Linked DNA regions of Homo sapiens: regions 1 and 2 are each linked to region 3. Evidence: fine-mapped expression QTL. A gene starts in region 3. Each other region holds a variant in brackets. All regions are shown on one strand. Distances are from middle to middle. Region 1 holds the start of DPEP2 (dipeptidase 2). Region 2 overlaps NFATC3 (nuclear factor of activated T cells 3). Region 3 holds the start of SLC12A4 (solute carrier family 12 member 4).

Region 1 (10,536 bases), 35 kb before region 3:
TGCACTCCAACCTGGGCGACAGAGCGAGACTCCATCTCAAAAAAAAAAAAAAAAGTGGCTGGGTGTGGTGGCTCATGCCTGTAATCACAGCACTTTGGGAGGCCAAAGAGGGAGGACTGCTTGAGCCCAGGAGTTCGTCACCAGCCTGGGGAATAAAACAGGACCCTGTCTCGGCCAGGCGCGGTGGCTCATGCCTGTAATCCCAGCACTTTGGGAGGCCGAGGCGGGTGGATCACGAGGTTAGGAGATCGAGACCATCCTGGCTAACATGGTGAAACCCCGTCTCTACTGAAAATACAAAAAAATTAGCTGGGCATGGTGGCGGGTGCCTGTAGTCCCAGCTACTCGGAAGGCGAGGCAGGAGAATGGCGTGAACGCAGGAGGCGGAGTTTGCAGTGAGCCGACATCACCCCACTGCGCTCCAGCCTGGGCAACAGAGGGAGACTCTGTCTCAAAAAAAAAAGACCCTGTCTCTACAAATTTTAAAAGAAAAGTACTGTTAACTTTTATAAGGGTCATAATGGTATGGTAATTGCCATTTATTTATATATTTATTTATTTTATTTTATTTTTCAGAAACAGGGTTTTAGTATGCTGCCCAGGCTGGCCTCAAACTCCTGGGCTCAAGCAATCCTCCTGTTTCAGCCTCCCAAATAGCTAGTAGGACTACAGGAATGGCCCAGTGCACCTGGCTTATAGTTGTCTTTTAAAAACAGCCATTACCATTTATTTATTTATTTATTTAGAGACTGAGTCTTTCTCTGCTGCCCAGGCTGGAGTACAGTGGCATGATCTCAGCTCACTGCAATCTCTGCCTCCTGGGTTCAAGCAGTTCTCCTGTCTCAGACTCCTGAGTAGCTGGGATTATAGGTGTCCTCCACGACAACCAGCTAATTTTTGTATTTTTAGCAGAGATGGGGTTCGCTATGTTAGCCAGGCTGGTCTCCAACTCCTGACCTCAGGTGATCCACCCACCTCAAGCTTCCAAAGTGCTGTGATTTCAGGCAAGAGCCACGTGCCCAGCCTAAAAAGAGCCCTTACCTTTTAGAGAGGCATACTTAAAAATGGATGAAATAGATGTCTATGATTTGCTTTAAAATAATCTGTAGAAAGAGGTGAGTGAGAGCATAAATGAAATAAGATGAGCCATCAGTTGGTAATCTTTGAAACTGGGTGATGGCTACATGGGAGTTAATACACTTTTCTCTCTCCTTTCTCATGTATTTGCAATTTTTCCTATAAAAAGTTTTTTGGTCTGGGCACAGTGGCTCATGCCTGTAATCCCAACACTGTGGGAGGCTAAGGTGGGAGGATCACTTGAGACCAGGGGTTTGAGACCAGCCTGGCAACATGGTGAAATCCCATCTCTACCAAAAAAAAAAAAAAAATTAGCTGGGTGTGGTGGCACCACCCTGTAGTCCCTGCTACTCGGGAAGCTGAGGTGAGAGGATCACCTGAGCCCCGAATTTGAGGCTACAGTGAGCCATGACGGCACCACTGCACTCCAGCCTAGGCCACAGAGGGAGATACAGTTTCAAAAAAAAAGTTTTGTGTTGTTGTTTTTAACTAAGCTTCTCAGATTCACCCAGATGCGGAGTCAGTGAGATCTCACATGGTCAGCTTCACAGGAGGGCAGGCTTTCTGCATAAAAACAGGAAGCTTAGAGAGCTCCGGGGCAGGGTGTGCTGTGACTTCACTGTGTTTTTGCAGAAACAGGTCTGATAGCCCTCGGAGATCAGCAGACAAGGTTAAGCAAGAGACAGCAAGTCTGAATTTGAGGTTAAATGTGAAATCACACATGTTGTCTAGATGTTTGGTCAGCACTGGCTCCTGGATCTTGGGGGCCTCTACAGAGCCCACCCTCCACCCCCATGTGCTTATGCCAGCACATGTGATAGCTGGAGACTTATCCAGCCACCTCACTGCACACCCCAGCAAATGGCCAGCACCAGTGGGTGATCAGGAAATGATGCCCGGACAAACTGATAGATGTAAGGAATTTGAGGCTGGGCACAGTGGCTCACGCCTGTAATCCTAGCACTCTGGGAGACTGAGGTGGGCAGATCCCTTGAGGTCATGAGTTTGAGACCAGCCTGGCCAACATGGAGAAACCCCTGTCTCTACTAAAAATAAAAAAATTAGCCAGGCATGGTGGCGTGCGCCTGTAATCCCAGGAAGCTGAGGTAAGGAATTTGAGGCCTTTCCTAGAGGCAGCAGCTGGAAGTGGAGGGATTGAAGGAACCCCTCATCTGACCAGCTGCTCAATTTTCT[T/C]ACCCACACGATAAGGCTGGTTCCTTAACTACACGGCCACGTGAAAAAAACAAAAAACAGGGCCAGGCACAGCGGCTCATGCCTATATTCCAGTACTTTGGGAGGCTGATGTGGGAGGATCACTTGAGGCCCGGAGTTCGAGACCAGCCTGGACAACATGACAAAACCCCATCGCTACTAAAAATGTGAATATTTAGCTGGGAGTGGTGGTGGGTGCCTGTATTCCTGGTTACTCTGGAGGATGAGGTATGAGAATCCCTTGAACCCTGGAGGCAGAAGTTGCAGCGAGCCGAGATTGCGCCACTGCACTCCAGCCTGAGCAACAGAGCAAGACTTCATCTCAAAAAAAAAAGAAAAAGAAAAAAAACACAATTTTGGGTCCAGGCCCTCTGGGAAGATGACTGCAGTACAAGGGGCCAAGGTTAAAGTGGATGGTGGTGAGTCAAAACTGAGCAAGAACAAGCCGAAGAGATACCTGAAAGCCGAGAAGAAAGTGGCAGAGAAGGCAGCCAAGCAGTAAGAGCTCAGTGAGAAACAGCTAAGCCCAGGTCACTGCTGCTGCCACCAACCATACCACTGACAATGGTGTGGGTCCTGAGGAGGAGAGCCTGGACCCAAATCAGTACTACAAGATCCACAGCCAAGGCCAGGCCCGGTGGTTCACTCCTGTAATCCTAGCACTTTGGGAGGCTGAGGCAGGCAGATCACTTGAAGTCAGGGGTTCGAGGCCAGCCTGGCCAACATGATGAAACCCCATCTCTACTAAAAATACAAAAATTAGCTGGGCATGGTGGCACATGCCTGTAATTCCAGCTACTTGGGAGGCTGAGGTAGGAGAATCGCTTGAATCTGGGAGGTGGAGGTTGCAGTGAGCTGAGATTGAGCCACTGCACTCCAGCCTGGGCAACAGAGCGAGACTCTGTCTCAAAAAAAAAAAAAAAAAAAAAGATTTGCAGTCAGGTAGGTCAATGGGAAAGACCCATACCCCAACGAGATCCATGTAGACATCTCCCTCACTGACTTCATCCCAGAATATTGTCACCTGCAAACTGGGGATCTCCTGACTGATATCACCTTAAACGTGACAGATAGGATCCATGCCAAAAAAGCTTTTGGAGGAAAGCTGAACTTCTATGATCTTTTTTTTTTTTTTTTTGAGATGGAATTTCACTATTGTTGCCCAGGCTGGAATGCAATGGCACAATCTCAGCTCACTGCAACCTCCTCCTCCCTAGGTTTAAGCAATTCTCCTGCCTCAGCCTCCCTAGTAGCTGGGATTACAGGCGTGCGCCACCACGCCCGGCTAATTTTGTATTTTTAGTAGAGGTGAGGTTTCTCCATGTTGGTCAGGCTGATCTCGAACTCCCAACCTCAGGTGATCTGCCTGCCTGCCTTGGCCTCCCAAAGTGCTGGGATTATAGGCGTGAGACACAGTGCCCAGCCATGAACTTCTATGATCTTTGAGCAGAGGGGGTCAAGTTGCAAGTCATGGCCAATTTCAGGAATTATAATTTCAGGAAGAATAATTTATTCATATTAATAACAAACTGCGTTGGGGAAACATAATTGGAATTCAGAGGAATCCTGGGAAAAACCAAGAAGGATGAGCTGAGCTTCATTCCCTATGAGATCACACTGCTGTGGCCTTGCTTGTATATGTTACCTCATCTTCACTTTGGCCTCAAAGACAAGGAAATAAGGTATGGTCAGAGATACTTGGACTTGATCCTGAATGAATGAGGCAGAAATTTATCATCTGCTGTAAGATCATCACATGTATAATAAGTTTCTTAGGCCAGGTGCAGTGGCTCACGCCTGTAATCCCAGCACTTTGGGAGGCCAAGGCAGGCAGATTGCCTGAGGTCAGGAGTTCGAGACCAGTCTGGACGACATGGTAAAACCCCACCTCTACTAAAAATACAAAAATTAGATGGGCGTGGTGGCAGGTGCCTATAATCCTAGCTACTCAGGAGGCTGAAGCAGAATTACTTGAACCCAGGAGGTGGAGGTTGCAGTAAGCCAAGATTGCACCACTATACTCCAGCCTGAGCAACAAGAAAACTCCATCTCAAAAAAAAAAAAAAAGTTTCTTGGATGAGCTGGGATTCCTAGAGCTTGAAACTCCCATGAATGAACGTCATCCCAGGGGAGCTATGACCAAGCCTTTCATCACTTATCACAACAAGCTGCACATGAACTACTCTAGAACTCTACCATAAGATGCTAGTGGTTGGTGGCATTGACCAGGTTTATGAAATTGCATTCCAGTTCTGGAATGAAGGAATTGATTTGACGTAAAATCCTGAGTTCAGCACCCCTGAGTTCTACATGGCCTAGACTATCACAATCTCACGGAAATCACGGGGAAGATGGTTCCAGGGATGGTGAAGCATAATACAGGTAGTTACAAGGTCACCTACTACCCAGATGTCCCAGAGGGATAAGCCTGCAATATTGACTTCACCCTACCCTTCCGGAGAATCAGCATGATAGAAGAGCTTGAGAAAGCCCTGGGGGTGAAGCTGCCAGAAAATAACCTATTTGAAACTGAAGCAATTGGCAAAATTCTTGATAATATCTGCGTGCAAATGCTATTGCGTGCCCTCCACCTAGGACCACAGCCAGGCTCCTTGACAAGCTTGTTGGGGGAGTTCCTGGAAGTGATTTGCAACAATTCTACATTCATCTGTGATCACCCCCAGATAATGAGCCCTTTGGCTAAATGGCACTACTCAAAAGGTCTGACCCAGCGCTTTAAGCTATTTGTCATAAAGAAAGCGATAAGCAATGCCTACACTGATCTAAATGATCCTATGCAGCAGTGGCAGCTTTTTGAAGAACAGGCTAAGGCCGCAGGTGATGATGAGGCCCTGTCCGTAGATGAAAACTTTGTTGCCGCCATGGAATACAGGCTGTCCCCCACAACTGCCTGGGGCATGGTTATTGACCGAGTCACCATGTTTCTCACAGATTCCACCAGCAACTCGGAAGGCTGAGGCAGGAGGATTGCCTGAGCCCAGGAGTTTGAAGTTTCAGTGAACAACACAGTGAGACCCTGTCTCTAAAAGGAAATTTTTTTTTTTTGAGACAGAGTTTCGCTCTTGTTGCCCAGGCTGGAGTGCAGTGGCACGATCTCAGCTCACTGCAACCTCCGCCTCCCGGGTTCAAGCGATTCTCCTGCTTCAGCCTCCCAAGCAGCTGGGATTACAGGTGTGCACTGCCACACCTGGCTAATTTTTGTATTTTTTATAAAGACGGGGCTTCATCATGTTGCCCAGGCTGCTCTCGAACTCCTGAGCTCAAGCAATTCACCTGCCTTGGTCTCCCAAAGTGCTAGGATTACAGGCGTGAGCCACCATACCCAACCTTTTAAAATTTTTTTCTTTTCTTTTCTTTATTCCTTCCTTCCTTCCTTCTTTTCTCTTTTTTTAATCTTACAAAAAATGTTTCGGAAAAGGTATTTTATTTTTAAGACAGGGTCTTGCTCTTTCCCAGAGGCTGGAATGCAGTGGAGCGACCATAGCTCACTGTGGCCTCTAACTTCTGGGCTCAAGCAATTCTCCCACCTCAGCCTCCTGAGTAGCTGAGACTACAGACATGTGCCACCATGACCAGCTACTTTTTAAAAAATTTTTTTGTAGAGAAGGGGTCTCACCATGTTTCCCAGGCTGGTCTTGAACTCCTGGCCTCAAGCAATCCTCATGCCTTGGCCTCCCAAAGTGCTAGGATTACAGGCATGAGCCACCATCTCTTGTCCCCTGAGATACTTTTAATGGCCTTGCTGGATCCAGCTCCTGCACCCCAGGGCCCTCCTGCCTCCTCCCCACCCTCGGCTGATGGCACTACCTCAAGGACATGGGATAGCATGCAGCCTTCTGTCCCAGATCCTCTGTACTGTCTGAAATCAGGCAGAACCCAGCTGCAAGAGGAACTCAATGGTACACATGGGACCCAAGTCATCAATCGTCTCCATCAGAAAGCAACCCAGGGCCAGGCACAGTGGCTCAGGCCTGTAATCCCAGCACTTTGGGAGTCCAAGGCGGGTGGATCACCTGAGGCCGGGAGTTCAAGGCCAATGTAGTGAAATCCCGTCTCTACTAAAAATACAAAAATTTGCTGGACATGGTGGTGCATGCCTGTAGCCCCAGCTACTAGGGAGGCTGAGGTTGGAGAATTGCTTGAACCTGGGAGGCGGAGGTTGCAGTGAGCCAAAGTGGCACCACTGCACTCCAGCCTGGGCAACAGAGCAAGATCCTGTCTCAAAAAAAAAAAAAAAAAGAAAAGAAAAAAGGCCGGGCGCAGTGGCTCATGCCTGTAATCCCAGCACTTTCAGAGGCCAAGGCTGGTGGATCACCCGAGGTCAGGAGTTCGAGACAATCCAGCCTCATCAACATGGTGAAACCCCATCTCTACTAAAAAAAATACAAAAATTAGCCAGCCTGGTGGTGCATGCCTGTAATCCCACGTACTTGGGAGGCTGAGGCAGGAGAATCGCTTGAACCTGGAAGGTGGAGGTTGCAGTGAGCCGAGATCGTGCCCTCGCACTCCAAAAAAAAAAAAAAAAAGCACCCCAGGAATGTTGGACAGAGAGGCTGGCGGGGTAGGGGTTGGTTGGTAAGGCTTGAGCAGAAGGTTCTAGATGCATTCAGGAGATAAAGATGCATTTGGGGTTATTGCACTTCTCCTAGAAACATAAACATTGACTTCCTTTTGTGGAAGAAAAATGTTATGTTAGCTATTTGACGTTTCAGGAAGGGTGGCTTCAGCTTGGTGATTGGAGGATGTTTGTCTACAGTGGCCAGGCTGCTTTCTGGCTTGGAAGACTATTGTTTCTTGGGAATTGTCTGTATCAGACATCATGGGAGCAGATCCAGGGCGACATCAAAGGGAAGCATGAGTCTCCAGGACCAGAGGGGCTTGGATGCAGATGATCATCATCTGGGCACTGCTGGATACTGAGTAAGCCCCAGCTGCACCCCACCTCTGCGCTCTGAGCATGGGAGGCAGCCTGTGCAGCTATAACTCAGCCTGACTTTTTCCTTCCCTGCATACTCTTGAAATACACTGGAGATGAGTAGGGGCGAGTGAGCTGCACACCAGAATAAGTTTGGTCCTTGGAGCAAACTGTTTCTACTGCTGCCTCCTCTGCAGGTCTTGATTTATGCAAACACTGCATAGAAGAGGAAGTAGAGGGAAAAGCTGTTCACCCACCTACTCCTTCCTGGTAGCAAGATTTCCTATCCTGGCCTTGCCTCAACAGCCCTACCAATTGGAGGCTGAGGTTGTGCCAAGGCTCTATGGGGGGACGTAGCATCACTGAGGTGGCCAGATTTTGGAGGACAGGAAAGTTTGTGCTATTTGCTGAGACTGGAGAGGCTGGTGAGAGCAGACTCTCCATGAGTTGAAAGCCAAAGAAAGAAATTCGGTAGATTTCTGCAATGAGAAGCCACGGAAGAACTTCAGGCAGGAGGATGCATTGGATCTTGTTTTCGTTTTGTTAGAGATGGGGTCTCACTCTGTCGCCCAGGCTAGGGAGCAGTGGTGCCATCGTCTCTCACTGCAACCTTAAACTCCTGGGCTCAGGCGAACCTCCCACCTCAGCCTCGTAAGTACCTGGAACCACAGGCATGCACCACTTTTTTTTTTCCTTTTTCTTAGAGTTCTCATTATGTTGCCTAGACTGGTCTCAAACCTCCGGCTTCAAGAGATCCTCTCACCTCGACCTTCAAATTACTGGGATTACAGGCATGAGCCACCATGTCCTACCAGACTTTGTTAAAAGAGGAACAGGCCAGGCATCGTGGGCTCACATGAACACTCATGCCCCAGAAGTAAACAAGTGTTAGCCAACCAGGAGGCCTATCCTCCCCCTAACCTCACCCAAAGCCATCTCTGTGCCCTCCCCCTTGCAGGGGAAACAGCACACACTAGTGAAATCTTGTCTTAGTGTGTCCGGAATTGGTGGGTTCTTGGTCTCACTGAGTTCTAGAATGAAGCTGCAGACCCTCGCAGTGAGTGTTACAGCTCTTAAGGTAGCGCGTCTGGAGTTTGTTTCTTTTGATGTTTGGATGTTTGGAGTTTCTTCCTTCTGGTGGGTTTGTGGTCTTGTTGGCTCAGGAGTGAAGCTGCAGACCTTCGTGGTGAGTGTTACAGCTTTTAAGGCAGTGCGTCTGGAGTCGTTTGTTCCTCCCAGTGGGCTTGTGGTCTCGCTGGCTTCAGGAGTGAAGCTGCAGACCTTCGCGGTGAGTGTTAAAGCTCATAAAAGCAGCATGGACCCAAAGAGTGAACAGTAGCAAGATTTACTGCAAAGAGCAAAAGAACAAAGCTTCCACAGTGTGGAAGGGGACCAGAACAGGTAGCCACTGCGGGCTCAGGCAGCCTGCTTTTATTCTCTTATCTGGCCCCACCCACATCCTGCTGATTGGTAGAGCCGAGTGGTCTGTTTTGACAGGGTGCTGATTGGTGCGTTTACAATCCCTGAGCTAGACACAAAGGTTCTCCACGTCGCCACCAGATTAGCTAAATACAGAGTGTCGACACAAAGGTTCTCCAAGGCCCCACCAGAGCAGCTAGATACAGAGTGTCAGTTGGTGCATTCACAAACTCTGAGCTAGACACAGGGTGCTGATTGGTGTGTTTACAAACCTTGAGCTAGATACTGAGTGCCGACTGGTGTATTTACAATCCTGAGCTAGACGTAAAGATTGTCCACGTCCCCACCAGACTCAGGAGCACAACTGGCTTCACCCAGTGGATCCCGCACCAGGGATGCAGGTGGAGCTGCCTGCCAGTCCTGCGCCATGCGCCCGCACTCCTCAGCCCTGTGGTGGTCGATGGGACTGGGCGCTGTGGAGCAGGGGGCGGCGCTCACCGGGGAGGCTCCGGCCGCACAGGAGCCCATGGAGGGGGTGGGAGGCTCAGGCATGGAGGGCTGCAGGTCCCGAGCCCTGCCCCCCCGGGAAGGCAGCTAAGGCCCGGTGAGAAGTCGAGCGCAGCGCCTGTGAGCTGGCACTGCTGGGGGACCCAGTACATCCTCCGCAGCCACTGGCCCGGGTGCCAAGCCCCTCATTGCCCGGGGCCAGCAGGGCCCGCGGGCCGCTCCGAGTGCGGGCCCGCCAAGCCCACGCCCACCCGAAACTCCAGCTGGCCCGCAAGCGCCGCTCGCAGCCCCGGTTCCCACTCGCGCCTCTCCCTCCACACCTCCCTGCAAGCTGAGGGAGCTGGCTCTGGCCTTGGCCAGCCCAGAAAGGGGCTCCTACAGTGCAGCGGTGGGCTGAAGAGCTCTTCAAGTGCCGCCAAAGTGGGAGCCCAGGCAGAGGAGGCCCCGAGAGCGAGCGAGGGCTGTGAGGACTGGCAGCACGCTGTCACCTCTCATTAGGAGCTGCCAATATCAGTGGCACAGACCTGAGCACAGGGATAATTTGGGGTCAGAGGCTACAGTCTAAGTTAGCTAGATGCTGGCAGTGGGCAGAGTGGAAACAAGGCAGAGGCGGGGAAACTCAGGGCCTGACTCCAGAGCCGACCTTAAGTGTCACCGCTGATTCCTCCTTACTGTCTCCCACCAACCCTGCTTCAAAGCATCTCCAAATCCTGGGTTCAACTTCCAAACATGTCCCAGGAATGTCTCCTTCCTGTTCCCACTGCTTCTCCCCCTTACAGGCCCCTTCATTCCTTACCCCTCCTGATCTCCTGGCCTCCAGCCCATTCCCTACAGAAAAGCCATACCTATTTCTTCCATTTTAAAAAATGTGAGCTGGGCGCGGTGGCTCATGCCTGTAATCCTAGCACTTTGGGAGGCCAAGGTGAGTGGATCACGAGGTCGGGAGATCAAGACCATCCTGGCTAACACGGTGAAACCCCGTCTCTACTAAAAATACAAAAAATTAGCCGGGCGTGTTGGCGGGCACCTATAGTCCCAGCTACTCGGGAGGCTGCGGCAGGAGAATGGCCTGAACCCGGGAGGCGGAGCTTGCAGTGAGCCGAGATTGTGCCACTGCACTCCAGCCTGGGCGACAGAGCGAGATTCCATCTCAAAATAAATAAACAAATAAATATAAAAATAAAAAATTTGGCCAAGGGTCGGGGGTGGCTCATGCCTGTAATCCCAGCACTTTGGGAGGTCAAGGCAGGCGGATCACCTGAGGTCAGGAGTTCGAGACCAGCCTGGCCAACATGGCAAAACCCCATCTCTACTAAAAATACAAAAATTAGCCGGGAGTGGTGGCATGCGCCCGTAATCTCAGCTACTCGGGAGGCTGAGGCAGG
Region 2 (5,000 bases), 170 kb before region 3:
AGCTGATCTTTGACAAAGCATACAAAAACATAAATTGAAAAAAGGATACCCTATTCAATAAATGGTTCTGGGAAAACAGGACAGCCACACGTAGAAGAATGAAACTGGATCCCTGTCTCTCACCACATATAAAAATCAACTCAAGATGGATTAAAGACTTAAAAGACCTGAAACCATAAAAATCCTACAGGAAAACCTAGGAAAAACTTCTGGACATCACCCTAGGCAAAGAATTTATGATTAAGACCCCAAAAACAAATGTAACAAAACCAAAAATAAATAAATGGGGCCTAATTAAACTAAAAAGATTCTGCACTGTGGAAGAAATAATCATCGCAATAAACAGACAACCCACAGAATGGGAGAAAATATTAGCAAACTATACATCCAATAAAGGACTAATACCCAGAATCTACAAGGAACTCAAATCAGCAAGAAAAAAACAAATAATCCCATCAAAAAGTAGGCAAATGACATGAACAGACACTTCTCAAAAGAAGAAATACAAATGGCCCACAAACGTATGAAAAAAATGCTCAACATCACTAACCATCAGGTAAATGCAAATTAAAACCACAATGAGATACCGCCTTCCTCCAGCCAGAATGGCCGTTATTAAAAAGCCAAGAAAACAATAGATGTTGGCATCGATGTGATGAAAAGGGAACACTTGTCCACTGCTGATGGGAATGTAAATTATAAATTAAAACAATTATGGAAAACAGTATGGAGATTTCTCAAAAAACTAAAAGTAGATCTACCATTCAATCCGACCATCCCACTACCAGGTATCTATACAAAGGAAAAGAAGTCATTATGTCAAAAAGACACCTGCATACATACATTATTCACAGCACAATTAACAACTGCAAAGACATGGAACCAACCTAAATGCCCATCAGCCATGAGTAGATGAAGAAAATGTGGTATATCTACACCACGGAATGCTACTCAGCCATAAAAAAAATGAGATAATGTCTTTTGCAGCAACTTGGATGGTACTGAAGGCCATTATTCAAAGTGAAGTAACTCAGGAATGGAAAACCAAATACCACTGGAAAGTCAGTATGTTTTCACTTATAAGTGGGAGCAAAGCTATGGGTACACAAAGGCATAAAGAGTGGTATAATGGATATTGTAGACTCAGAAGAGGGTAGGATAGGAGGGGGTGAAGGACAGAAAACTACATATTAGGTACAATGTACACTACTTGGGTGAGAGGTGCACTGAAATCTCAGACTTCACCACTACACAATTCATCCATTTAACAAAAAACCACTTGTACCCCAAAAGCTACTGAAATAAAATATATAAATAATTCATTAACATACTATAGTCTCTCTGTCTTATGGGCTTCTAAACCAGCACTGTCCAAGATAACTTTCTGCAGTCACTAAAATACTCCTTTTTTTTATTTCAACAGACTTTTGGGTAAAATATCTCCAATTTAAAAAAAAAAATCCATGATCATTTTGTATTAATTTTATAAGATATAAGGTTTATGTCAAGGCTTATTTTCTTGCCTACGGATATCCAGTTGCTCTGACATCATCTGTTGAAAAGAAAATATAGTCAGTATCCACATGTGGCTACTAAACCTTGGAATGTTGTCAATGCAACTGAATAACTGAATTTTTAATTTCAGTTTAATTTAAATTGAAATATCCACGTGTAGCTAGTGGCTTCTGGATTCCACTTTTGGACAGTGCAGCTCTAAACCCTTCCCTCTACTTAATACTTTTCCCTCCTTAGTATCTACCTTTTCCCTAGATGTCTGCTTATTAATTAGCTAGACACTATCTTCAAATAAGAAGTCCCCTTTCTGGCCAGGCGCAGTGGCTCATGCCAGTAATCCCAACGTGGGCGGGTCACCTGAGGCCAGGAGTTCCGAGACCAGCCGGACCACCATGGTGAAACCCTGTCTCTACTAAAAATACAAAAAAACTAGCCAGGCGTGGTGGCATGAGCCTTGTAGTCCCAACTACTTGGGAGGCTGAGGCATGAGAATTGCTTAAACCTGGGAGGCAGAGGTTGCAGTGAGCCAAGATTGCACGACTGTACTCCAGCCTGGGTGACAGAATGAGACTCTGTCTCAAAAAATAATAATAATAAAAATTTAAAAATAAAAATCCCTCTTCTTTCTTGTGGAAATAAAAAATAAGTACCTGATTCAACTCCATCAAATTTCAGGTCTGTATTTGCTCTCACAAAGATCTGAATTTCCTCCATTAAACATTTATCATACTTTATTGGTACTACCTTATTTGCAAGTCTCAATGGACAATAAAGTTCATGGGAGTAGTCAACATGTCTGATTTCCCTCAGTGAACCCCCAGCTACATTAGCAAACTGCTTTGAATGTATTATTTGGTGACCACATTAATGAATCAGATAACTTATTTTGAAGAAAAGAAAAAGTTAATTTGTCAGTTGGCTACAAGGTAGGTGGTATTTTCCAACAGCAGCACAGCTTGCATTCCCTCATCATTTCAAAAAATATGTATTTCAGAAATTTCTTAGCTCTTTTGAAATTCTCCTTTGCAGAATAACAGGAAGATCATTATAACTGATGTTTAAGTACCCTTCTACTTTCCATTTTCACATATCACTAGCCCATTAATTCACAACTCCTTAAAATGTCAGTAACAAACCTAGCTTAATTCTAGGATGCCAATGTAGATATCTTATTCTGCTACATACTCTTCATCAGTGTTGAAGTGTTGGTCAAACTGTTCAAAGAAACCTAAGTAATGATACTAGCTAACTTTTACTGAGCATTTACAATGTGCAAGGTACCATGCCATGTTCCTCACAATGTTTCATTTACTCCTCACAACAGCTCTTAGGTAGATGATATTATATATTATTCTCATTTTATAAAGAAAAAATCCCAAGGTAAAGTTCTCTTCATAATTAACCTCTATCGCATCAATACTAATTTCCAATATAGCACTTACTATATTCTAATGTTTTGTTTATTTACTCATTGTCTCTCTCAGTATAAAGTGAGAAAGGCCCTTGAGGACTGGAGTTTTGTCTCTCTTG[T/C]TCATCTCTGCATCCCTAGCACCTACAATACTGTCTATAACGTAGTGAGCAATCAAAAAATACATATCGAATAAGTAAATGGATAGATAGGTGAATAAATTAAGCAATGAATGATTAAATAAAAGGTCTAGAAAGAAAGGTTAAGTTACTTGGTCAAGGATACAGTAAAATCCAGGATTCAACCAAAACAGTCTGGCTCTAGAGCCCGTATTAGTGACTTAGCCATGATTTATTCCTGTGTGGAGCATGTGGCATAGAAGGCACACTAACCACCAAAGATTTAAGTATAGAGTTCTATATTATACTACAGAATACAGAGTTTTGATGAGGAAAGGCTGCCCAGCCAGGGACTACTTTTCCCAGTACTTCTGCATGTAAGTAGGGCCATGTGACTACTTGTAGCCAAAAAATTGTAAGTGGTGATGATTGATAGTAATTTCCAGGTTAATGTAGTTAAGTATCTTGAGTGCTTTCCATACACCTTCTTCTTTCCCATGGACAGTAGAAGCTGTGCATCAAAGACGACATCAAAAGATGAACGTATCTTGGATTCCTGAGCAACAATTTGAAAGAAAATGCAAAATAAACTTTTAAAAAATTTTTTTGGTCTTAAACCACTGAGAATTGGGGATTATTAGTTACAGTAGTTAGGCTACCATGATTAATCCAAGGAAGGAGAGCTTGAACTATAATAATAGTAAACAAGCATTAAGATTTTTATCAGGGGCCAGGCACGGTGGCTTACACCTGTAATCCCAGCACTTTGGGAGGCTGAGGTGGTGCATTACTTGAGGTCAGGAGTTCGAGACTAGCCTGGCCAACATGACGAAACCCCATCTCTACTAAAAATACAAAAATTAACTGGGTGGGTGTGTTGGTGGGTGCCTGTAATCCTAGCTACTTGGGAGGTTGAGGCAGGAGAATCACTAGATCCCAGCAGGCAGGGGTTGCAGTGAACTGAGATGTGGGCCACTGCACTCTAGCCCGGGCAACAGCACGAGACTCTGTCTCAAAGAAAAAAAAATTTTTTTTTAAAGTAAGAGAAAGAGTATCTGACTTTAAGTCAAAGACTAGGCTTTCTAAAAGAGTTTATTTGGAGAATTAAATGAGATAACGTGAAAGTGTTTTAGAAAATGAAACATACGGCCGGGCACGGTGGCTCACGCCTGTAATCCCAGCACTTTGGGAGGCCGACCGAGGAGGGCGGATCACGAGGTCAGAAGATCGTGACCATCCTGGCTAACACGGTGAAACCCCATCTCTACTAAAAAAATACAAAAAAATTAGCTGGGCGTGGTGGCGGGCACCTGTAGTCCCAGCTACTCGGGAGGCTGAGGCAGGAGAATGGCGTGAACCCAGGAGGCGGAGCTTGCAGTGAGCGGAGATCGAGCCACTGCACTCCGGCCTGGGTGACTGAGCAAGACTGTTTCAAAAAAAAAAAAAAAGAAGGAAAATGAAATATACTAAGAAATTATGAGATAATTACAGTGTAAGAAGTAATATGGTAAAACAGAAAGAGAAACGACAGTCAAAAGACCTGGGCTTAAGACCTCTCTGCCAATTACAACATACATAACCTCAGATCACCTGTAAAATGTACAGTCATGAGCTACATAACAGTGGTTCGGTAAATGACAGACCGTATATAATGGTGGTCCCACAGGTAACAACAGAGCTGAAAAAGTCCTATTGCCTAGTGACATCTTGATGTTCCTGACTCTGTGAAGGCCTGGGCTAATGTGTGTGTTTGTGTCAGCATTTTAAACAAAAAAGTTTTAAAAGTAAATAAAAATAAAAAATAAAAAATTTGAACATAGAAAAATGTTTATGGAATAAGGATATAAAGAAATAAAATATCTTTGTACAGCTGCACAACGTGTCTGTGTTTTAAACTGTTACTACAAAAGACAAAAGATTTTTTTAAAATTCACAACTTATAAAGCGAAAAAGTTAAT
Region 3 (11,398 bases):
ATGCTTTTTTTTTTTTTTTCTTTGAGATGGAGTCTTGCTCTTGTCGCCCAGGCTGGAGTGCAATGGCCAGATCTCAGCTCACTGCAACCTCCGCCTGCCAGGTTCCAGTGATTCTCCTGCCTTAGTCTCCCAAGTAGCTGGGATTACAGGCACGCGCCACCACACCCAGCAAATTTTTGTATTTTTAGTAGAGATGAGGTTTCACCATGTTGGCCAGGCTGGTCTCAAACTCCTGACCTCAGGTGATCCTCCCCCCTTGGCCTCCCAAAGTGCTGGGATTACAGGCATGAGCCACTCCGCCCACCAGAGACCCTGTCTTTAAAAAAAAATGAAAGAAAAAGAACAAGCAGAAATGTAAGACCCAGGCATGGTAGTGTGTGCCTGTAGTCCCAGGCACCCACCCTATACCCATTAAGCAGTTAACCACCACATGCTTTTTTCTGTTTTTTGAGACGGAGTTTTGCTCTTGTTGCCCGGGCTGGAGTGCAATGGTGCGATCTTGACTCACTGCAACCTCCACCTCCTAGGTTCAAGCAATTCTCCTGCCTCAGCCTCCCAAGTAGCTGGGATTACAGGTGCCTGCCATCACGCCCAACTAATTTTTGTATTTTTAGTAGAAACGAGGTTTCACCATGTTGGTCAGGATGGTCTTGAACTCCTGACCTCAGGTGATCCAACCACCTTGACCTCCCAAAGTGCTAGGATTACAGGCATGAGCCATGGTGCCTGGCCTGCTTTTTTTTTTTTTTTTTTTGAGACGGAGTCCTGCTCAGTCGCCCAGGCTGGAGTACAGTGGCATGATCTCAGCTCACTGCAACCTCCGCCTCCCAGGTTTAAGCAATTCTTGTGCCTCAGCCTCCGGAGTAGCTGGAATTACAGACATGTGCCACCACACCTGGCTAATTTTTCTTTTTCAGACAGAGTCTCGCTCTGTCTCCCAGGCTGGAATGCAGTGGCCCGATCTTGGCTCACTGCAACCTCCATCTCCTGGGTTCAAGTGATTATCCTGCCTCAGCCTCCTAGATAGCTGGGACTACAGGCACATGCCACCACGCCAGGCTAATTGTTTTATTTTATTTATTTATTTATTTTATTTATTTATTTTTATTATTATTATTTTGAGATGGAGTCTTGTTCTGTCGCCCAGGCTGGAGTGCAGTTGCCCAGGCAACTTGCACTGTTGCCCAGGCTGGAGTGCAGTGGTGCCATCTCAGCTCACTGCAACTTCCACCTCCCAGGTTTAAGCAATTCTCCCACCTCAGCCTCCCAAGTAGCTGGGATTACAGGTGCTTGCCACCACACCCATCCAAATTTTGTATTTTTAGTAGGGATGGGGTTTCACCATGTTGACCAGGCTGGTCTCGAACTCCTGACCTCAGGTGATCTGCCTGCCTCGGCCTCCCAAAGTGCTGGGATTATAGGTGGGAGCCACCACTCCCAACTGAATTTTGAATTTTCGATCTAGATATTCTAGATATTCCTGATTTATGGTTTTTTTTTTTTGAGACAGAGTCTCACTCTGTCGCCCAGGCTGGAGTGCCAGTGGCGCCATCTCCGCTCACCGCAAGCTCCACCTCCCGGGTACACGCCATTCTCCTGCCTCAGCCTTCCCAGTAGCTGGGACTACAGGCGCCCGCCACCACACCCAGCTAATTTTTTTATATTTTTAGTAGAGACGGGGTTTCACCGTGTTAGGCAGGATAGTCTCGATCTCCTGACCTCGTGATCTGCCCACCTCAGCCTTCCAAAGGGCTGGGATTACAGGCGTGAGCCACCGCGCCCGGCCTAATGTCTATGCTCCTCAAATGTCTTTTGAGTTTGGCCTGTGAGGTTATTTTTCCTGTGATGGCTGTGATATTGGAGAAGATGTGTACTGGCCTCGGAGTTCCCCATCGTCCCCTCTGTGTTTGTCAGTTGGGCTCTAGTGGCCTATCTCCCTGGCACAACACCCCACCCTACCCCTGAGGCTGCAGGGTGTGCAGTGCCAGGGTGGGAGCTATACGGAAACTTTGCAGAGCAAAGAGGTAGACTAAGAGGGCACCTGTTCATTCTTTATTTGAAAAATGTGTTGGGACCGGGAGCAGTGGCTCACGACTGTAATCCTAGCACTTTAGGAGAGGCCAAGGTGGGAGGATCGCTGAGCCCAGGAGTTTGAGACCAGCCTGTGCAGCAAAGTGAGACCCTGTCTCTATGAGAAATGAATAAATAAAATTAGCTGGGCATGGTGGCATCTTAGCTACTTGGGAGGCTGAGGGGAGAGGATCATTTGAGGAGTTTGAGGCTGCAGTGAGCTGTGATTGCACCACTGCACTCCAGCCCAAAGTGACAGAGCAAGACCCTCTCTCTAAATTAAAACAAACAAACAAACACCTCTAAGATCTTAAAAAAAAAAAATGTGTTGGGGCCAGCCAGGTTTTGAGGATACCAGAGTGACAAGACCGACAGGGTCCTGCCCTTGCAAAGTCCACAGTATAGATAGAATCTTAATCAGTGATTTCCACCAATCCATTTCTGCCTGCAATGGGAACTATGAAGGGAAAGGCTCAGGGCAGCCCAGTCCAGATGAGGGGTGGGGTGGGGTGGCAGGGCATGTGTCTGAGAAATCTGAGGGGAGGTGGTGCTCCCCACCAAGACCTCCTGGATCAGGAGGTTTTTTGTTTGTTTGTTTGTTTTTGAGATAGAGTCTTGCTCTGTTGCCCAGGCTGGAGTGCAATGGCACTATCTCGGCTCACTGCAACCTCTGCCTCCGTGGTTCAAGTGATTCTCCTGCCTCAGCCTCCCGAGTAGCTGGGATTACAGGCACCTGCCACCACACCCAGCTAATTTTTGTATTTTTATTAGAGACGGGGTTTCACCATGCTGGCCAGGCTGGTCTCGAACTCCCAGCCTCAGGCGATCCACCCGCCTTGGCCTCCCAAAGTTCTGGGATTACAGGCTTGAGCCACCAGGCCGGCCTTGGAGGTTTTTTGTCTGTTTGAGACAGTGTTTCGCTCTTGCTGGAGTGCAATGGCGCCATCTCGGTTCACTGAAACCTCTGCCTCCCGGGTTCAAGTGATTCTCCTGCCTCAGCCTCCCAACTAGCTGGGATTACAAGCACCCGCCACCACGCCCAGCTAATTTTTTTGTATTTTTAGTAGAGACGGGGTTTCACTATTTGACCACGCTGGTCTCAAACTCCTGACCTCAGGTGATCCTCCCGCCTCAGCCTCCCAAAGTGTTGGGATTACCGGCGTGAGCCACCGCGCCAGGCCTGGATCAGGAATTTGATAAGTGAGGGTAGGGACAGAGGCTAGGTAGATGTCCCCCAGAGTGAACAGTGGGTGATGCCCAGAAACTATAGGTCTCAGGTGAGAGAGAGAGATTTGAAGGGCTGAGGCTGCGAGGTGGGTGGCGAGGGATGCGCCTGCAGAGGTCGGGGTCCGGCCGCATTGGGCAGGGCCTTATGGGCCCGGAGCTAGTAGGATTTTCCTTCAGAAGAGGCGGCTCTACGTGAGCAGGGGCGAGGGCAGGGAGTCCAGTAGGAAGGCCGCTACTGTGGGCGGCCGAAGGTGGCGTGAGGGGCGGGGGGGTCAGGTCGGCGGGCCCGCTGCGGGGGCCCTGGGGGAGGGGTCAGAGGGTGGTAAGCTCGGGGGTCGTCTTGCGGGGCCCAGCGGCTCTGATTCCGTACCCCCCACCCCAAGGGCTGGAGGCTGGCAGTAGGCGTAGTCAGAGGACGCCACCCGAGCCACGCGAGGGAGAAGAGTGGAGATAGACAAGTAAGATGGGCTCTGGGGTTTTCTGATAGAGAAAAAAATAGTAAAGCCAGCTAGATAAGTAATCTGAAGCAGTGGAGAAGAAAGTGAAAGAAACGTTAAAAGCAAATAAGTAAACGGCTTGGATAGAGGAACACCCAGGAGGCGAGATAGAGAAAGTTAAAATGAAGGGACTTGGCTACAGCACCCAGTGCACTGTCCCAAAAAGGCAAGCGAGGCAAGCGGGGCGGGGAAGGGTGGGTGTGCGTGTTCTTCCTGCGGAGGACGCAGCAGCCCCTGGGGAGGGACCGAGAATCCCCAGCTGCCTCCAACAGGAGAGGCTGCAGCTAGAGGGCCCAGGGCTGGGACGGGACCTTCGCGGGGGTCTGGTTCCCAGGGTCGCGGAGAAATGGGATGCAGACGCTGGAAATGGGAAGGAGGTATACGGGGTTGGTGGGAGGCCCTGGGCAGGTGGCTTCTGCAGTCCTGGGCCGGTCCGGCCTACCCTGCCCCGTCCCTAAGTAACAGAGCGCTTCGTAAGCCCAGGGCGCAGAGCCAGGACACTCCGCGACCCATCTCACGGAGCCCTAAAACAACCCCGAGGTGGAAGTGTGTTTCCCCCATTTTACAAATGTTGCATCTGGGGCTCAGAGAGGGCGGCCTCTCACCCGAGGTCACACAGGAATCGGGCCCGCCCCCAGGCCGTGGAGCCACTAGGAGTGCTCCCGCCCAGGGGTCTTCCCGCCACCAGGGCCCCCGCTCTGGGAGGAGCCGGCCGAGCCCCTCCCGCTCTCCGCCCCCGAGGGGCGGCCCGGGGGGCGGGCGGAGGAAGTGAGCGCAGCGGGGAGGAATGCGAGCGGGCGGGGCGTGTCGGCCCGGGGCGGCGGGGACAGCGGCGGGGACAGCGGCGGGCGGCTGGGACGGCGGGTGCGGCGGGGCCGAGCCCGCACGATGCCTCACTTCACCGTGGTGCCAGTGGACGGGCCGAGGCGCGGCGACTATGACAACCTCGAGGGGCTCAGTTGGGTGGACTACGGGGAGCGCGCCGAGCTGGATGACTCGGACGGTGAGGGCGCGTTCTGAGGGGCCGTGGCGGGGCAGCGGGGCCTGCCACCCGGGGCCGCCATCCCGGGCCCGCGCCCGCACCTATCCCGGGACCTTGCGCGCACACGTCGGTGCGGACTCAACTTTTTTTGGACCGCGCCGCTGCCACTGGCTCCCCGCCCTGCGCGCGCAGACACGATTTTCCTCGGCCCCCGGCGCCCGCGCCCGGCCGCTTTCTCCACCCCAGCTCCTCCCCTGTGGGCCCCGGGCGGGGGCTGCAGACGTGGCCGCCCAGGGAGGCCAGCCGGCCGGGCCGCCCGGCTTGGGGACAGGGCCGAGACCCCATCTCAGGCCCTTCCCGGCCCTTCAACTTCGGTGAATCCCACATCCTTTTCTCGCCTCGGTTCCTCATTTGAGATTCAGCGTCTTTGCCTTTGAGACGATCCGCTCCCCAACTGCCCAAACCCCTCCGTGTGCCTCTCTGCGCCTACCTGCACTCTGGCCAGAGTGTGCCTACTGGGGGGTCTATGGGTAACTGCCCGTGAGTGCGCCGGTGTAGATCTGTAGGGACAGTGGGCCTCAGTGAAGCACTCACATGGAGCCGGACGTGTCTAGGCACTTGAAGTGAGTTAACTCGTTTAATCCTCCAGCATCACCCTTGGGATAAGTACTGTTACTCTCATTAGGAAGCAGTGAAGGGAGGGGTGGCGGTTATATAACTTGCCCAGGGGCAGTCAAGCCTGGGTTTGAGATTCCAGCACCTTAACTCTTTAACTTAGGTGCCAGGGCCGAGAGGTAAGCCCCATCTCCCTCCTCCTTCCTCCCAGGTGCCCGCGTCTCTCCACAGCCCTTTCTCTATCTCCTACCCCAGGAGGCCCCCCAGAGGGCTGTTCTTGTTAAGGCCCACCCTCGGAGCACGAACACGGCTGAGGACATGTGTCTGTGTACGTAGTGGCATATGCATGTGTAATTGTGCTTGTACAAGTGTGTAGCTGTGGGTATCACAGGGTGAAGGCTGGTTCAGGTCAGGGCATTCTCACAGCCCCTGTTTCCTGCAGGGTTGACAGTGATGAGGATGGTGATTTGACTGATGATAAATGCCTGTGATATCTGTGACCGATCATGATGGAGATATGTAGGAAGTGTGTGGTTGACACGTGTCAGGTGACGTTGTCTGGACCTCTGATCCATCTGTGATGGTGACACGACTGAGATGATCCATGCCCAATGTGAATGATGGCTATGTGTGTGTATCACTTGACTGCCATGTGCAGAGGTAGCACAGGACAGTGGCATGGGCTGCTGGACATTGCAGAGGTTTTACAGGCTTGACAGCTGTGTGAGTGCCCCAGCCTCCATGCCCTTGTCTGCCCCTAGCTTGATTCAAGTGGTCAAAGCAAAAGCCAGCATTCCTGCTTCCCTAACCCTGGGAGGACCTCTCTCCCCAGAGGGTAGACTGGGCTGCATCCCCAGGATCAGCCTGGACCAGTGGGCAGGCAGAGCTGAGCCTAGCTGCTGGCCCCACCTTGGCCACGCCTTGGCCCCTACAGGGTGACTGGAGGGACCTGGAGCTACATTGGCTGAGTCCTGCTAGATCCCCGCAAGCTAGGCCAGCTCCTCCCACTGCCTCCCTTCCTCTTTCTCCTCCTCTTACTCCTTTCCAGCCAGACCTTGGCTGTCTACAGGATGGGGGACACCCTGAGCCCCGGTGAGTGATTTTGATCCTTGGTGGGGACTGCAAAGGGTCAGAGGGCACAAAGCACAGTGAGCCTCAGATCTATCTCCTGCCCCTTCCCCAGTTCAGTGCCCACACCTCTGCTCTGGGAGGCCTAGATGGGCTTGCTCATCCAGCCCACCTTGGCCTGTGGGCAGGGGGTAGGGAGGTGCTGGAGGGGGCACCTCAGGCAGATGTCCGTGTACACAGGGATCAGGAGGGTCACCTGGATCCCCACCTGCCACTGGTGCAGTCACAGTTGCTGGTGGGAACACAGTTGTGTAGCTCACAGGCAGTCCCTAGGCCTAGGCCATATTCAGATTTACTGGGGATCTCAGGTGGTGTCTGAGCAGCTTCAGCCTGGCAGGCATGTCCAGACCTGCCCTGGAATTTTTGGAATGGCTGAGGCCAGAACAGGAGGTCTGAAGCCGAGGGCAGTACAGACATCCAGGCACTACTTAGACCCTTACATTCCCACAAGCCCTTGGGAGCTTTGGGGGAACTCCGAGGAGTGCCCACTGGGCGTCTGGCACTAACTGTCCCTTTTCTAGTGCATCTGGGCAGTTGGAAAAACAAGTGTTACAATCTCCACTTCATAGAAGAGGAAACCAAGGCCGCACAGGGAGTAAGCATGTCTCCCTGGGTCACACGGGGGAAGGTCTGGGAATCCAAGCCAGTCTGCCGCAGTCTGAATGCCCAGAGGCCTAGGTATGCGTACCCTGGCCAAATTGCAGCACTCTTCTCTATTTTTAAAGATTGTGCTGCATAGATGGACTGGAGTCTGTAGTAGGAACGGAACCTGCAGCTCCGCCCCTACAGGGCTCTGATGGACCCTGGGACCCAGATGTGGCCTTCTCCCTGGGTGACCTTGCCTCTGAACATCTTTGAGCTTCACTCTCCTTGTCCCTAAAAGGTAGTAAATGCTCTCTACTGGAATGTTGCTGTGAGAACTAGAGACAACTTTTGGAAGGGCCCCGAGCCATCCTAGAGTGATAGCTGAAGGGACAAGGGATAGGCTAGGTCTTAGAGGACCATTTACAGGCATTTGTGGGGAGCTGCTGTGTGCTCAGCTGTATATTTTCTGGATAGCAATACAGTCTACCCAGAAAGACCAGGCAACAGTGATGGGGCAGGCTGTAGTACATGAGTTTAGAATAAATTATAATTGATTTCCAGCCTACTTCCACAAAAGAATCAGAAGAAATAGCCAACAAAAGTGTCTCCCCAAGTGATTGTTACTCTCAGGAAGATTGAAAACCATGCAGAGGAAGGGGGCAAGCACTCAGGTGAGACAGATGGTGACTTTATCTAAAGAGTAAATTTAGCTTGGAGATTCCTGGCAGCCAAAGCAGAAAGAGAAGTAAGACGAGCTGTATAACTGGCATTTTCTGACAAAATGAAGCACCTGATTTATCAAAGGGAGACACTTTTTTTGTCACAAAAATCCAAAAGTAATTTTCAAAGGCTTTTCACTGAAGAGCCATTAATGTCATTAATGTAAGAGGCAGAGTGTTACTGGGTTTTCAGATTTTTCTTGGGACTCCTTCTGATCCTGAACAAGCATGGAGGGTACAGCAGATATCATAGAGTGTCCGACATGACCCCGCCTGGCTTTAACATGACACGGTGGACTGTCTTGACCTCTGGCTGCCTTTGTCCACTGTGCCATTGGCATTGACCTATGTGAATGTGGGGCTGAGCTGCTTGGCTCACTTAGCTAGTCCAGGTTGCTGGGTGTAGCAGGTGTGCCACTTTCACATGCTGTGGGAAGGAAGAACTGACTTTGCCCCAGAAACTGTCATGGGCACACTTGATTTGTTAGTTTCCTTGGGGGATAAAGAATCCACAGCACAGCACCTGCTGAGTGGTTGTTGGCTCAGAGAAAGCAATTGAAGCCTCATGCTGATAGCAAGAGATGTATCAGATACAGGAGGATGCCTCAATCAGCATTCTCAGCTGCAGTCAAGAAAAATGAATTGTGGCCTATGTAAACAGAAAAGGTTGGCGGGCATGGCCAGTGCATGGCCCAATCACACCACTAGCCTGGGCTGGTGGTGACAGTTCTGTTGCCATCTCCATCACTGGACACCATGCCAGTCCTTCTCATGTCAGAACTACATACTGCTGCCATCCAACACCAAGATGTGTGCTTTCCATTTGCTGTGAGGCCTTGAGCCAGGGCCGGGGCTGCGAGGGTAGCTGGGGTGGAGGGAACACTCAGCACCTAGAAAACGAGTGCTTGGCGTTCTGCTTGGTGGGAAGCTGGGAATGGCACCCACCGAGACTCATAAGGGACAAGAGTTGGAAAACAGGGAAGAATGAATGATAGGAGGCCAGAAAAAACAGTCGAGCTTTGGGAGTTGAGGCAGGCTTATTGAAAAGGAGCATTTCACTCCTTTTGGCGAGATTTCTCAGAGCTGGGGCACTGGCTCATCAGCCTAGGGCTGTAGGCGGAGGTTTGCCTGGGGCAAGCGGCGGGATCTGCGGGCAAGGGGGCCATTGTGTTGCTCCTGCCAGCAGTCCCAGCTCCCATTTTTCTCCCTGCTCAGTCCGACACCCACCCGTCCGACTTTCTTAGGCAACCCTAGAAGGCTCCTGGAATCCACTTCCGCTCTCCACGGCCTGGGGCTTGCCCCACCTCCCGGCATGCCCCGGGCTGCCCTGCAGGACGCCCCCCGCGCAGTGCATGGTGGGGTAGCCAGCCGGCCACCTTTGGGCCATGGCAGCCGAAGGTGCTGTGTGCGGCTTCGTCTATCTGGAGGGCACTGCCTGGGCGGTCCCTGAGGACACCGAACCCTTGGCATCCTGCACATTGGGTACTCCGGAAAGACCGGGAAAGGGACTGGGGCGTGGAGGCGATCTGGGGGCGGGTCAAACGCTGGCCCCGCCCCTCTGCAGGCCCCGTCCCTCAGTGTCCATACGTGCTTGTGCTAGGGCGCCTGCGCCCTCACCTGGATTCCCTTCACTGGAGGGAATGATGTCCCAGGTTTTGGTCACTGGCCTCTCTCTGGCTATCCCTGGGCCTTCAAGAGCATTGGCACGGTGCCATGTGAAAACTGAGTTGCAACCTGGTGACACTGCAGCTCCAAAGTGCTCCACAGAAATGATTTGGGGACTGGCTTTCTGGGAAGGGGCCCAGGCTGGGGGGCTCAGGAAGCAGGCCCTGATTGTCCCTCTCTCTTCACAGGACATGGCAACCACAGAGAGAGCAGCCCTTTTCTTTCCCCCTTGGAGGCTTCCAGAGGAATTGACTACTATGACAGGAACCTGGCACTGTTTGAGGTAGCTGAGGAGCCATTTTGGGCCACAGGTTTGGCACACAGAGGCTTTAGCTAAGCAGGCAGGCTGGACACGTGGGCCTCCTCTGTCTTGCTCTTCCTCTCATCTCCTCTTGTGTTCCTGGTTCTCATGGCAGCCGGGCTGCAGTTCCCTTGGCCCTTTCAACTGAAACTGCCTTTCCAGAGGCCACTCACAATCCCACCCCCATTGCTACCTCCAGGGTGGTTCACCTCTGACTTCCTTACAACCCCTCAGCAAGGAAACGCCCGCTTAGGATTTCCCAACTCAGGATTTCTCCTCTTCCTTCCACTCCTGGTTCTTCTCCAAGTCCATGGTTCTTCGCTCTCCCATGGATTCTTCCTTGTCTTTCTTGGTTGACCCTTCCAGCTCTGTCCCTCTCTAGTTCCCTGAGTCCTGGTCCATTTGCAGCTTTAGGGGATACGTCTCTGGAAAGATTCCCAAATATCTGCCTCTGTACTTGAGTTTTATCTTCTTCAGACTCAAGCTGAGCAGTGAGATCTGGATTTAAGACGTAGTTTAAGCTCCTAAACTCTGACCCATGCATTCAGCCACTGCATGGCTGAGTAATGGAGACTCCTTAATCTGCCTTTTTTTTCTCTTTCTTCATTTTGAGATGGAGTCTCACTCTGTCGCCCCAGGCTGGAGTGCAGTGACGCGATCTCAGCTCATTGCAACCTCTGCCTTCCAAGCTCAGCGATTCTCCTGCCTCAGCCTCCCGAGTAGCTGGGATTACAGGTGCCCACCACATGCCTGGCTAATTTTTGTGTTTTTAGAGACGGGGTTTCACCGTGTTGGCCAGGCTGGTCTTGAACTCCTGACTTCTAGTGATCCTCCTGCTCAGCCTCTCAAAGTGCTGGAATTACTGCTGTGAGCCACCACATCTGGCCGAGGCTCCTTAATCTCCACATGCCCCCAAGGGCCCTCGTCTTCCTTTCTCACACCAAAGCAACTTCTCCCTGTGTGTAGGTCAGAAAGGAGCTGACAGAGAGGGAAAAGCTAAATGTGGGCAGGAGGCAGGTAGAAGCACAGCCTCGAGAAGGCTGCAGGAGCAGGGATCATCGCCTAGACCCCGGTGGGGCTGGGGGACCTGAGCTCTGGGAGGCCTCCTGACCTGGGAAAGCAGCAAGGTTCTGCGGTGAAGGCCTTGGCCCAGCCCCGCCTGAGGATGGGCTGGAGGATCAGGATCCCATCTCCGCGATTGATGTGGGTACTTGCAGGACTGGGGTCAGGGGAAGACCATCCAGGGAGATCAGGGTTTGGGCAGACAAGGGAGACTTCACTTGTCCCAGACATCACTCTTTTGCCCTCTTTGGTTCCCTGAGGTGACTAGAGTGGCTTTTTTGTGGGGAGGGTAGGCGTGAGTCCTAGAGGTGCAGCCATAGCCAGGAGGTGGCTGGGCAGAGCAGGCAGGATGAAGTATGCCATTGCCCCCCTGCCAGCCGTGTTCTTCCCTGCCCTCTCTCCCCTGAGGCAGGTGGTTTTCACAAATGGGCTGGCAGTGATTGTAGCCAAGGCGGGGTAGAGAGAAGCAGCCGCGGGGCTGGGCCTTTGAGTGCCACGTGCTGGGGTGTGGTGTGCACACCTGTCCAGTTGGATGGCTTGGACTTCC

The links. PIP is the estimated chance that this variant, and not a neighbour inherited with it, causes the effect.
Region 1: its variant is fine-mapped to the expression of SLC12A4 in whole blood (TOPMed, PIP above 0.99).
Region 2: its variant is fine-mapped to the expression of SLC12A4 in whole blood (TOPMed, PIP 0.99).

What each region holds. Positions count from the first base shown.
Region 1 is chr16:67,997,142-68,007,677 of GRCh38, reverse strand. DPEP2 (dipeptidase 2) reads left to right here and starts at 8,194. Exons shown (of 11, transcript NM_022355.4): 1 at 8,194-8,303. It also overlaps the pseudogene KARS1P3. RefSeq lists enhancers at 319-1,092, 9,255-9,771. The variant T/C (reference allele first, on the strand shown) is at 2,272.
Region 2 is chr16:68,137,109-68,142,108 of GRCh38, reverse strand. All of the region lies in intron 3 of NFATC3 (nuclear factor of activated T cells 3), which reads right to left. Among named protein-coding and RNA genes, the nearest start is that of NFATC3, 54 kb to the right of the region's middle. The variant T/C (reference allele first, on the strand shown) is at 3,046.
Region 3 is chr16:67,961,838-67,973,235 of GRCh38, reverse strand. It overlaps SLC12A4 (solute carrier family 12 member 4), which reads left to right and starts at 4,599. Exons shown (of 24, transcript NM_005072.5): 1 at 4,599-4,797; 2 at 9,677-9,771. The coding sequence starts at 4,683. RefSeq lists silencers at 4,347-4,676, 4,807-5,136, 5,647-5,706, 8,029-8,200 and an enhancer at 6,465-6,983.